Linked DNA regions of Homo sapiens: region 2 is linked to region 1. A link means that fine-mapping ties the variant in region 1 to the expression of a gene that starts in the linked region. Tissue or cell type: nucleus accumbens. Region 1 holds a variant in brackets; the other region holds the start of a gene. All regions are shown on one strand. Distances are between the middles of the regions.

Evidence for each region. PIP is the estimated chance that this variant, and not a neighbour inherited with it, causes the effect.
Region 2: it holds the start of LINC02346, and the variant in region 1 is fine-mapped to the expression of LINC02346 in nucleus accumbens (GTEx, PIP 0.99).

The regions. Positions count from the first base shown.
Region 1 is chr15:26,025,327-26,031,977 of GRCh38, reverse strand. All of the region lies in intron 2 of LINC02346 (long intergenic non-protein coding RNA 2346), which reads right to left. Among named protein-coding and RNA genes, the nearest start is that of TRE-TTC2-2, 54 kb to the left of the region's middle. The variant C/T (reference allele first, on the strand shown) is at 3,435.
Region 2 is chr15:25,899,733-25,906,383 of GRCh38, reverse strand. LINC02346 (long intergenic non-protein coding RNA 2346) reads right to left here and starts at 4,024. Exons shown (of 5, transcript NR_040082.1): 1 at 3,818-4,024.

The DNA.
Region 1 (6,651 bases):
AAAGGAAATTTTCATTAGTAAAAGTATGCACACCAGGAAGACAGCTACTCCCAGACATCTTTCTCACTTACAGACTTTTATCTGCATGACGAGGCAGAACCTCTTCCCCGACATGTCCTCCCCTCACCCTTCCATGCCCTGCCTCCACCACCCCTGAAGCCCCAGCCCCTCTTCCTTTCTGGAGCTCAGGATGTCAATTAAGTTTCAGTCATCTGGCCCTTCTCACATTTTTGTCTCACATTTTTGTGGGACTGCTGTGCATACGTACGTAATTAGAATAGTTTTTATCCTGTTCATTTTTTTTTTTCTTGAGACAGAGTCTGGCTCTGTTGCCCAGGCTGGAGGGCAGTGGCAAAATCTCGGCTCACTGCAACCCCCATCTCCCAGGTTCAAGCAATTCTCTGCCTCAGCCTCTCGAGTAGCTGGGATTGCAGGTGCCCACCACCATGCCTGACTAATTTTTTTTGTATTTTTTAGTAGAGTCAGGGTTTCACCACATTGGCCAGGCTGGTCTCGAACTCCTGACCTCAAGTGGTCTGCCTGCCTCGGCCTCCCAAAGTGCTAGGATTACACACATGAGCCCCTGTGCCCAGACTGTTCATACTTTTTTTGTTAATCTAATTCATAGCCCAGTCAAAGAACCTAGAAGGGTGAAGGGAAGCCCTTTTTTCCTTCACTACACTGCCCTGTCATGAAGGTAATAATGTGTGAAAGGAAAATAAACCTTGGGACTCCAGAATCACTAAGCCAAAATCACTAAGGGAAAAGTCAAGCTGGGAGCTGCTCCGGCCAACCTGCCTCCCATTATATTCCTAAATAAGACAGCTACAAAGACAAAAAAGCTACATATCTCCCTCACAATTTTCCCGCAAGAAAATTCCCAGTGGATGAAAGACAGGGCTAAGTTGTGATTTTTTCTTATTTTGCCCAAATTCCTATCTAAGGAGTCTGGGGAGTCATGCCCTACAAACCACAAATTCTCATCAGATGGGTTTTATTTAACCCTATATATCGTGACTTACTTTCCAATGTGACTCTGGCATAACATTTTGTGACAAAGAAGAAGATAAAAATATTTTACCCCAAAATATGTTTCTTTGCCATATTTTGAAATGGCCCACTACACTGCCCTGTCATGAAGGTAATAATGTGTGAAAGGAAAATAAACCTTGGGACTCCAGAATCACTAAGCCAAAATCACTAAGGGAAAAGTCAAGCTGGGAGCTGCTCCGGCCAACCTGCCTCCCATTATATTCCTAAATAAGACAGCTACAAAGACAAAAAAGCTACATATCTCCCTCACAATTTTCCCGCAAGAAAATTCCCAGTGGATGAAAGACAGGGCTAAGTTGTGATTTTTTTCTTATTTTGCCCAAATTCCTATCTAAGGAGTCTGGGGAGTCATGCCCTACAAACCACAAATTCTCATCAGATGGGTTTTATTTAACCCTATATATCGTGACTTACTTTCCAATGTGACTCTGGCATAACATTTTGTGACAAAGAAGAAGATAAAAATATTTTACCCCAAAATATGTTTCTTTGCCATATTTTGAAATGGCCCTGCAAAGCCATCCTTTGTGGGGGAAAATTTGCATCTGTAAAAAATCTCTATCAACATAGCTAGATCTTTTTCTTCCAGGCCCCCCCACCCAGTCCTGAAGAGATTAACTGAGAGTCTAGTACCTTTTGGAGGTCTGAATAGGAAATATTTGTCATTTATTGTCTCTATGGGCAGCCACTATAAGACTTCAAAAGAATCTTGGTCTTTACAATCTTTTATCTTAACCTGAATATTCCATTTCTTTCTTTCTTTCTTTCTTTCTTTCTTTCTTTCTTTCTTTCTTTCTTTCTTTCTTTCTTTCTTTCTTTCTTTTCTCTTTCTTTCTTTCTTTCTTTCTTTCTTTCTTTCTTTCTTTCTTTCTTTCTTTCTTTCTTTCTTTCTTTTTTTTCCCAAGAGTGTCTCACTCTGTTGCCAGGCTGGAGTGCAATGGGGTGATCTCTGCTCACTGCAACCTCTGGCTCCCAGGTTCGAGGAATTCTCCTGCCTCAGCCTCCTGAGTAGCTGGGATTACAGGCAGCCACCACCACGTCAGGCTAATTTTTGTATTTTTGGTAGAGACAGGGGTTTCTCCATGTTGGCCAGGCTGATCTGGAACTCCTGACCTCAGGTGATCCACCCGCCTCCCAAAGTGCTGGGATTACAGGCGTAAGCCACCATGCCCGGCCCCGAACATTCCCTTTATATCCATCCCAGGTCTTCAGACAAACTCAACCGATTGCCAACCAGAAAATGCTTAAATTCACCTATAGCCTGGAAGCCCCTGCTTCAAACTGTCCTGCCTTTCTGAACCAAATCAATGTATTTCTCAAATGTATTTGATTAATGTCTCATGCCTCCCTAAAATATATAAAATCAAGCTGCACTCCGACCACCTTGGACACATGTTCCCAGGACCTCCTGAGGGCTGTGTCATGGGCCGTGGTCACTCATTTTTGGCTCAGAATAAATCTCTTCAGATATTTCACAGAGTTTGACTCTTTTCGTCAACAACAGACAGAACTCAAAGTCATCCCTCTGCTCATGTGAGACAAATGCAAATCTGATTGCTTCCTTTGCCCTATTGTTTCACTAAGCCAGATTAAGGCGTAAGCGACTATTCCTGTAAATGGCACATTCAATGAAGAGCTAATCAGAAACGCAAAAGGATGCAACTGTTTTTCTCTTTTCTACCTAAGACCTGGAAGCCCCCTCCCCACTTGGAGTTGTCCTACCTTTGCAGACCGAAGGAACCAGTGTTTATCTCTTGTCTCCCTAAAATGTATAAAACCAAGCTGTGCCTGGACCACCTCGGGCACATGTTGGGACCTTCTGAGGCTGCATCACAGGTGCATCCTTAACCTTGACAACATAAACTTTCTAAATCGATTGAGACCTGTCTCACATACCTTTTGGTTTACAACTGTGAAATATATGTGTATCTGAAATATATATGTAAATATATGTGAACGTTCTCTTAAGCTGTCAGGTGAGAGGCGCTGGTGTATCATTTAATTACCCACCACCATGGTTCTAACAGAGCTGGCCAAACAAGAGAGGGATGTGATCTGACTCTTCAAGTGAGCCCACACAAGCACAGCAGACAGATCCTAGCACCCAGTCTTCCTATTTGAGAATACTGTGGTGCCAGCCAAGGCAAGGAATTACCCGATTTTATTACATCCCATACTCTTAAATATGTATTAGATACCTACAGCCTTGCTTGTGCCGATACCATGGAAGGATGCAGCAAAGATTGCAGACTTGCCTGGTGACTGATGGCGACATTAAAACAGGCAAAAATGCCCCTCTCTGATCTTCCTCACTCTCCGAAGGCATAGGAGTTGACTTTCGGATAGCAAATGCAGCAATCCCTGGAGGGTTTTCAGCCAGC[C/T]GCCTGTGTGGAATTTAAAGTATTATGCATGATTAATTACCAAAAAATTCAGGCAGGCACTCTCTGTCAGGAAAGTGTTTAAAACCTTCCTGGTGGCAGATTGTGCTGCTAGCAAGAAAAATAGATGCTTCAATACCACTCAGTTTCCAAATGCATTTCCTTTCAGAAATGCTTGTGTTAGCCTGCAAATATGTGCTGTCCTACTCTGGCAATTTTAGATGCGCAGCCCCGAAGCAAAGGCTCCTTCCTGTCCTGCCAGAGAAGGGGGCGCGATTGGATGCCATGCAGAGGTGCATGACACGCATCACAGGTACGTGGCTGCCTGTCTCCTGGGCACCCTTTCCATTTTTCCTTTGCAGAATTTGTCTATGCAGCATATTAAAAATCTACCTCTACCTTGATACACTGAAGTTCTCGCAGTGAAAATGTTTATTAAGAAACATATCTGTGCCAGCCGTGGAGGCTCACGCCTGTAATCCCAGCACTTTGGGAGGTGGAGACGGGTGGATCACCTGAGGTCAGGAGCTTGAGACCAGCCTGGCCAACATGGTGAAACCCCATCTCTACTAAAAATACAAAAAAAAAAATTAGCCAGGTGTGGTGGCGGGTGCCTGTAATCCCTGCTACTCAGGAGGCTGAGGCAGGAGAATCACTTGAACCCTGGAGACGGAGGTTGCAGTGAGCCGAGATTGCGCTATTGCACTCCAGCCTGGGCAACAAGAGGGAAACTCTGTCTCAAAAAAAAAAAAAAGAAAGAAAGAAAGAAAAAAAAGAAACAGATTTTTGCCAGGCATGGTGGCTCATGCCTACAGCACCAGCCAGTTGGGAGGCTGAGGTGGGAGGACAGTTTGAGCCCAGGGGTTCCAGCCTGCAGCGCACTATGAACTCTCCTGATGAAAAGCCACTTATTCCAGCCTGGGTTACCTCACCCCCCAAAAAAAATGTTTTGGAAAAAGCTTTAGTTCCAGAAATGTGATCATCTTGATATAATTTTAGAGGGAATTGTTTTTCATAGCCACCACAGTGGAGGGAAAAGTGCTTTCTTCTATCCTTCTAGGTACTTTCGTTGGTCTACAAAATAAGTTGACATAAGACACATTAACCGGAGAAAAACACTTTTAATTATGTACGTACTCACAGGGAGTGTGACAAACATAGGAGACTCAACAAAGCAGCTAGATGACTGAGACTTATACGCTCTCCCTATCCTGAGCTACAGAAAGGAGCAGGGGCTTGGGCTTTGGGGGAGAGTGGAGACATGTTATGAGAGTAAAACCATCTTTGCAAAATTATAACTGAGGAAATTATGACAGTGAAAGAAATCAGACCTAACCAACTCCATCTTGCTTCTAACCCTTAAGCTGTCCTTGTTCGTTCCTGGGCATAGGCAGAACTAACTTTGGGAAGGAATTCAGCTCATGGTTTGACCCTAAAACAAAATTGATAACAACCCTTTCCTGAAAAGAACCCCTTCTTGCCTGGGACCAGTCTGCCTTTGCAGGACTAACAAATTAGCTACAAGATTAGAAATTACAATTTAGGGGTCATGCAGCCTCTGGTTCCAAGAGTCTGAACCTCCCCAGATTGCTCCTGGGGATAACATCACTATTGTAAAACCTAAGATCAGCACTTGAGATATCTCGCAGACCCTGCACTCAATGGATCAGCTGACACTAGCTAAACTGGTAATCCGGCCCAACCAGTTCTGCCATGGCACCCAGGAATAGAAGACATTAAAAAAACCTAACTTCAACCCCCTGTGATTCCATCTCCAACCTAATCAATCCCCACCTCCCAAGCCCCTATGTGCCAAATTATCTTTAAAAACTCTGATCCCCGAATGCTTGGGGAGACTGATTTGAGTAACTATGAAATTCTGGTCTCCTACACAGCCGGCTCTGTGTGAATCACTCTTTCTCCATTGTCGTTCCCCTGTCTCGATAAATCGGTTCTATCTAGGCAGCAGGCAAGGTGAGCCCATTGGGTGGTTACAAGAGGGTAACAAGAGGGGAGGAAATGTATGGTGAATAAGCATTGCCTGGTTACCCAGATAAAAGTCTCTCTGTCAGAGGTGTTTCAACCAGAGCAACTCCATATTGAATAGGTGCTAAGTAAGATAAGGCTGGACCTGCTGGGCTGCATTCCCAGGAGGTTAGGCATTCTTAGTCACAGAATGAAATAGAAGGTCAGCACAAGATACAGGTCATAAAGATCTTGCTGATGAAACAGGTTGCAGTGGGCCGGGCTCAGTGGCTCACGCCTGTAATCCCAGCACTTTGGGAGGCTGAGGTGGGAGGATCATGAGGTCAGGAGATCAAGACCATCCTAGCTAACCCGGTGAAACCCCTTCTCTACTAAAAAAAATACAAAAAATTATCTGGGCGTGGTGGCAGGCACCTGCAGTCCCAGCTGCTCGGGAGGCTGAGGCAGGAGAATGGCGTGAACCCAGGATGCCAAGCTTGCGGTGAGCGGAGATCGTGCCACTGCACTCCACCCTGGGCAACAGAGTGAGACTCTGTCTCAAAATAAATAAATAAATAAATAAATAAATACAAGTTGCAGTAAAGAAGCTGGATAAATCCCACCAAAACCAAGACAGCCATGAGCATGAACTCTGGTCGTCCTCACTGCTACACTCCCACCAGCGCCATGACAGTTTACAAATGCCATGGCCACGTCAGGAAGTTACCCTACATGGTCTAAAAAGGGGAGGCATGAATAATCCACCCCTTGCTCAGCATATCATCAAGAAATAACCACAAAAATGGGCAACCAGCAGTACTCGGCGCTGCTCTGCCTATGGAGTAGCCATTCTTTTATTCCTTTACTTTCTTAATAAACTTACTTTCACTTTACTCTGTAAACTCGCCCTGAATTCTTTCTTGCATGACATCCAAGAACCCTCTCTTGGAGTCTGAATTGGGACTCTTCCCCATAACATCTCTGTTGTAAAATTATCTCTGTTCCTAGTACAGCCATCTTTACTAATGAAATGTTTTTGTAGGTATAAATTTCCTGTACAAAAGGGGAACTTTTTGCTTTGTTTTAGCAGTTGGGGGAGGTAAAGCACTTTCTCTGCTTTGGCTGATTCTTAACTTATTTTAGTTCAAAGTAATGAATATGCCAAAGTGGAATATTTGGTGATGGCGTATCTTGAGCCCTCTGTTCCAGCTAAATCCTGCTTCATGAGGAAAGAAGAGGGTCCTTTAGAAGTGCC
Region 2 (6,651 bases), 130 kb after region 1:
TGAACAATCTCCTCCTTAAGTATCCATTTTTTCTACTGCAACTCCTGTTTTCATTCCTCTTCCTCCACAGAATTTTATTATAACAATTTCTTATGCTTAAAACTCTTCTGTTCATCACACTATCAGGTTTCTTGCTACAAAAGCTATGTATAAAAACTTACAATTTTAATTTTCTTCAACATGTCTCTAAATGTTAAATAACTTTTTCCAGTTATTGTAAATGATGTATTCCAGTTATCATGGTTATTAACACTCAATTCATGAAGGTAAAATGACTACATTATAACTTGATAATTATTAATAGTGAAAATATACACTTATCAGAAACACATCTTATAACGAGATAAATGGTACTAAAACTGTTTTCAAATTACTTTATGTATCCATGGATGAATATTACTTATCGGTGGCATGACACATGATTCGGTATCAGTTGGATTCCTATTTTTTATATATGTAAGCATGGCGAAAAACGTTTTTACATGAGTAAATACATCTGAATGGAAAGTGTTTTGTTGTAAAGATTCCACTCCTTCTAAGTTATGTGCTGAAAATTACATGAAGATTGATCATAAAAAAATTTTTTTGAGATAGTCTTGCTTTGTCACCCAGGCTAGAGTGTAGTGGTACAATCATGGCTCACTGCAGCCTCAAACTCCTAAACTCAAGGGGTCCTCCCACCTCAGCCTCCTGAGTAGCCAGGATCACAGATGTGTGCCACCACGCCCGTTAATTTTTATTTTTAGTAGACGCGGGGTCTCACTATGTTGCCCAGGTTGGTCTTGAAATCCTGGGCTCAACCAGTCCTCCCACCTCAACCTCTCAAAGTGCTGGGATTACAGGCATGAGCCACTGCACCCGGCCTAAAAATTACTTTTAATGATCTAATCCATCAGTTTATAAATTGACTAGATCCTCTTTCAGTTCATGGAAAGCAAAGAACTAGAACAATCTGACTTGCCAGAAGATTAGTAACACAGCCATTAGTCACTCACTTTCTCACACTTTCCCAACACTGCAAATATCCTCTGGTGGGTGGGCTGTGGCCATGGCCAGGGAGGCCTTCCTCCTCTGGGCTGATGCAACATTGCCCTGGGTGGAAAGATCTGCTTGGGGAGGGAGCTGGGTGCTGTGGAGGAAGGCGGGGAAGAACTGCATCTCCATCAGGGCCTGCCCATGAAGATGGTGTTAGGTTCTGGAACACAGCTTGCTTAACACTGCCTGTGCCCTTGCAAACTTTGTGTCTTGCTGGGGCTTGTAGATCCCAGTTTGCAAATGGTGGCATTGTGTAAATCCCAACTCCCTCAGGCAAGGGCAAAAACACATCACCTCAAACTGTGTTTTGTGCTTTTTTTTTGGCAGGGGGACTAACGTTTTATAATTTATTTATTCATATATTTAGCAAACTGTTATGGAGGCTCCTGTACCACCTGACCCACCCTTCAGCTGAGAGCCCCACTCATGCTGGGTACCCAGGAAACTGCAGGCCTGGCCTGGAAGCTCAGCAGCTGAGTGGCACATTGCAGGGGATGAAAAGCCAGGAGGATAAGGCGGCCTGGGGGGACCCTGAGGGCAAGAACTATGAGATGTCCTCCAGGCGAGAGAGGAAGAAAGCCACTGCGGGGAGGATCGGCCTGGAACCCAGACTGACAGCTCTTCCTTTCCAAACACAGCCCCCAAGAGATGGAGAACCCAGATGGCCCCATTTCCAGACAAACAAATGCCACTGTTTTTGTTCTTTCACAAATCTGGTTCCCTTGACAATTAAAACCAAGTCATAGCTGGGTACAGTGGTGTGTGCCTCTAGTTCTAGCTACCCGGGATGCTGAGGTGGGAGGATCACTTGAGGCCAGAAGTTCAAGACCAGCCTGGGCAACATACTGAGACCCCCATGTCTATAAGAAAGAATAAAATTAGGTTATAGATCATATTTTAATAAACTTGTTTTCAGCACAATGTCTAATTTTAAAAATAAAAATGTGCTCTTAGTAGTCAGACTTGGACTATTGCTGTTGTTTAAAAAAATACACACACCTTTTTCTCAAAAAGAGATGATTCTGAAAGTTTTCCAGCAGGAAACATCTCTAATGTAACTGGAGTTAATGAATGATGACTTAGGTAAAAGACACTTTCTATCCATGCTGCCATGCCAGCCTCCTGGTCCGCCAGGGAGAGCTGTGGCCTGCAGCCCAGGGGTCATGAGGGTGAGCTGGCCCAGGAGGACCACGTGGAATGCTTCACAAGATTGCCTCAGATGGAAGGGCATGGTATAGAAGGCAAATCAGAGGAGGAGTGACATTTTCTGTGGTTATAAGGAAGACAGGTGAGGCCGAGAGCTTGAAGAAGGGCTTGCAGCTGTCCTGACATTAAAAGGCTTGTTCATTATGGGGGTCATGAAGCTGTTTCTCATCTTGCTTGGGCTCTTTGTGGAGGACAGATGTGACACCCTCACATCCTTGAGGCTGGCGTCTCAGATTTTTTGGTGGCGAGTCCCTGAGGCCCACTCGAGTGAGCCAAAGGCAGGAGCCCATGGGATACTTGGCCAGGACCCACATCCCTGGAACCTGGGCTGTGTGGGGCCCTAGACTAAGATCTCTCCTCGACCAACTGCCAGCCAGGCTCCTCTGAGTCCTCTTCTCAACAATACCTCCACGCTGGCCTATAAAGACTTCAGCTAACACTAACATGGCATCTAGCAACTCATGGCCACATCCCTAGGATGACACCAGCCCCCCTTATAGTCCCTACCTCAGGAAACTCAAGACCGCCAAAAAATACCCTGTTCCAGCCAATCCCTGCAGCTACGGCCCCTGTCTCCCGGCCTCTGTGGGACATCAGGAGCTAACTTCGACCAGAGCCAGTTAGCAGCCCAGTGGGGCCGGCCCCTCCTTCCTGGGCTTTGCAATTTCTCACTTCCTGACTCCAGCAAGCCTTCCCTCACCCCTCCCTCCTCCCTTGGAAAAATCCACTCACCTCTGTACACATCCAAGCTGACTTCAGTTCACACTGTAACCTCTTCCCCACTGCAACGGTTATTACTGTGAAAAATCTCTCCTGACCCTCTCACTACTGCCTGGCTTTGTTTGTCTTTGACACTCTGGGTTCAGGTAGGACAGGGTGTGCCCGGCCACAGCCCCCTCAGTAACTCCAGGCTGGCCCACTTCCTGCCGTGTGTGAGGTTTTGGAGTGGCAAGTTTGTTCTGCTTTGTTTCATGGTTTTCAGTCCCTCCCAATATCCCCTGGCCTGTGGTCACCACAGTCAGCCCAGGCCAGCAACTGACCCAGGCTGGAGGTTAACACCACGGAGCTGCCCACACGTGTGTGCCCGAGTCCCTGCCCATGCCTCAGCAATGGTCACAGGCTTCTCACCTCCATTCAGCCCCCCTATTTGGGGCCCTACCTTTAGCCAGCTAGCCAAGTGCTCATTGTAACCCAGTATTTGTATTCATTCACCATAGAAAATTTGTCAAATGGGTAATGCATTTCTTTTTACCCGCCTCTTAGTGACTGGGCTTATGATCAGAATCAAGTGCTATTTTGTGGCCACTGGCCCCTCATTGGCCCCTTCCTCAAACCCATGCTGGATCTGGAGTGAAATGCCCTCAGGTTGACCCCTGCTCGGAGCCCAGGCCAGGTGAGACCGGCTGGTGGGTGCACTTGGAGATCACACCCCAGCTGCTCAAGGGACACTTTGAGCTAGAGCAACATGCATCAGTGTGCACAGAGCCCTTCCTGTGCACCCGCACTGCAACTAGAGCTTTCTAAGAATTGTCTCACTCCATCCCCAAGAATTGTGTGGCTGGGGGGATATGCTCACCCACATTTTGCAGATGGCAGAGAGTCTTGCAGAGCTGCCAGCGTTCCTGAGGCTCACACAGCCAGCCATGTTGGGGCGGATGCTCCGGCCTCTCGTCTGGCTCCAGAGCGAGGCAGCGCCTTGCAGCACATTCCCAACAATTTCCTCATTGGGAGGCTTCCTAGGAAACCAGCCTCCCTGCATATGTGGACACTGCGATGCATCAGCCCTATGCCTGCTTCCTCCCAAGCTGAAGGCACCCACTCATGAACCGCCCTTGATATGCCAGGGCATCTTACGCTGCACTGGGTTCCTATTTATGTGTAACCACATTTCACTACCTAAACAATGCCTGTTTATTATCTCATGGTTCTGGTAGATCAGGACTGTAGACAGCCTTGAGCCGAGTCCTCTGCTGAGAGTCTCCCAGGCTGAAATCCAGGCATCAGCACAGGCTGCAGGCTCATCTGAGGCTGGGGATCCTCTTCCAGCTCACTGGTGCTTGGCAGGATCCAGCTGGGCTGTAACACTGAGGTCTGTATATTCTTGCTGGCTGTCAGCCAGGGGTCACTCCAAGCTCCTAGAGGCCACTCTCACATTTGGAGAGTGTCAATCAAAATATGACTGGGCAGCGGCTCACACCTGTTCTCCCGGTACTCATAGAGGCAGAGGCAGGAGGATCGCTTGAGCCAGGAATTCCGGACTTGCTTGGGTGGCATAGGGAGACTGTCTCTACAAAAGGAAAAAAAAAAAAAAAAGAGCAAAATATGGCAGCTGACTTCCTCAAGGCCAGAAGGAGGATGTCTATTGCTGCCTCTTGTCTCCTTTAAGGGATCACCCGATTAGGTCAAGCCCACTCAGGATAATCTCCTTTTTATTGACTCAAAGTGAACTGATCAGGGACCTTCACTACATTTGCAAAGTCCCTTTTTGCCTGTTCACACTGAAACCCTGTTGTCTTCACAGGAGTATCCCACACTCAAGGGGAGATGCTATTCAGAGTATGTACATGAGGGTGGGGACTTTGGGAACCATGTTACAACTCAGCCTACCGCACTCCCCATTATCAAATTCTCCCAGTCCCTCTTCCTGAGGCCAAACCTAATGCTGGAATTCCTCACCCCTCCCTGGACCTCAGAATAGTGAACTTCACTCTCACTTAAAAACAAGGACAACTAAATGACAGACCTGGTATTGTAGAAACTCAGGAGACTGTATTGCCTTCATGCACCAACTGGTGACAGGAATACGTGGATCTGTGAGTCAAAAGGGTACACTCCACTTAGACTCATGGAGGACGGGCACCTTCTCCCCACCCAGGCCCAGCTCCACATCGTTCTCACACTGTCACTGTCAGACTGACCTCTGCCCATTCAAAGCATTGCACATAAGCTTGGGCATAGCTTGCTTGCTTGTGAGGACTGAAGTTTGTCCAGACAGATGAGGCTTTGCTCAACACCTTGGCTCCAACCATGTCACATGGATCCTCCTCCACATTCAGCATTGCAGATTGGCTGAATTCCAAATGCCTCACAACTAGGGCAAAGGAAAGGCAGGCCTTCTGAGACAGAAGGGAGACAGTGAGTTATCACAGGGCAGCTCACGTAATAGGTATGAGCCATCCATGAGAGTGGTTGCCCACTCCTAGAGAACAGAGGGAAACGGTGAACAAGACCGGACTCCCAACTTGCACTATTCAACAAGAACCCACGAGAACTGTGCCGCGCTTAATTGAGTATTCCTGCCTCCCCGGCAGCCATCAGCTAGCATGCAACTTTAATCTGTCCTATTAACTGATGTCTGCATGTGGTGAAGGAAGAAATTCACATGGTTCAGAAGGGCCATCAGTGAAATCACAGGCCTTCTCACTCCACTGAGGTAACCACTGTCCGTAGCTTCTGGCTCCAGTTCTTCTGTGAGTTTCCATTTATGTCTTTTTCAAGTAAGTCCTGAGAGATTTCCCCAGCTTTAGCTTCCAGATTTGCAACTTGGTGTTCAGCCATTTCCAATTTATTATCCTGCTCTAACCTTTGGCTCATGTTTCATTTATCATGTTTCAAAATTCCAAGAACACATTATATTTCTCTAAAACTCCTTTTACACAGCAGTCCATTGTCATTTTAAGGCTGTATCTTCCTGTAGTGTGTGTGTGTGCGTGTGGTGTGTGCGTGTGTGTGTGTGTATACACAGTCACTTGTCACTTAACAACAGGGATACACTCTGAGAAATGCTCATTAAGTGATTCTGTCATCCTGCAAACTTCATAGATAAACCTGGATGGCATAGCATCCAACACCCCTAGGCTGTATGGGACGGCCTATTGCTCCTAGGCTACAAACCTATACAGCATGTTACTGTACTGAATACTGTAGGCAGTTATAACACAATGGTAAGTATTTGTCTATCCAAACATATCTAAACATAGAAAAGATACAGTAAAAATGTAGTGTAAAAGATGAAGAATGGGACACCCGGATAAGACAATTACCATGAATGGGGCTTGCAGGACAGGGAGTTACTCTGGATGAGTCAGTGAGTGAGTGGTGAGTGAATGTGAAGACCAGGACATTACTGTAGAATACTATAGACTTTAGAAACACTGTACACTTAGGCTGCATTAAATTTATAAAAAATATTTTTTTCTTCAGTAACAAACTAACCTTAGCTTTCTGTAACATTTTTACTTTACAAACTTTTAAATTTTTAAAAACTTTGGACTCTTGTAATAACACCTTAAAACACAAACACAAAATATGTTGTTTCTTTATATTCTAATACTCTAAGCTTTTTTTTCTATTTAAAAACTTTTTAAAAACCTTTTTAAACTCTCTCGTTAAAAGTTAAGACACAGCTAG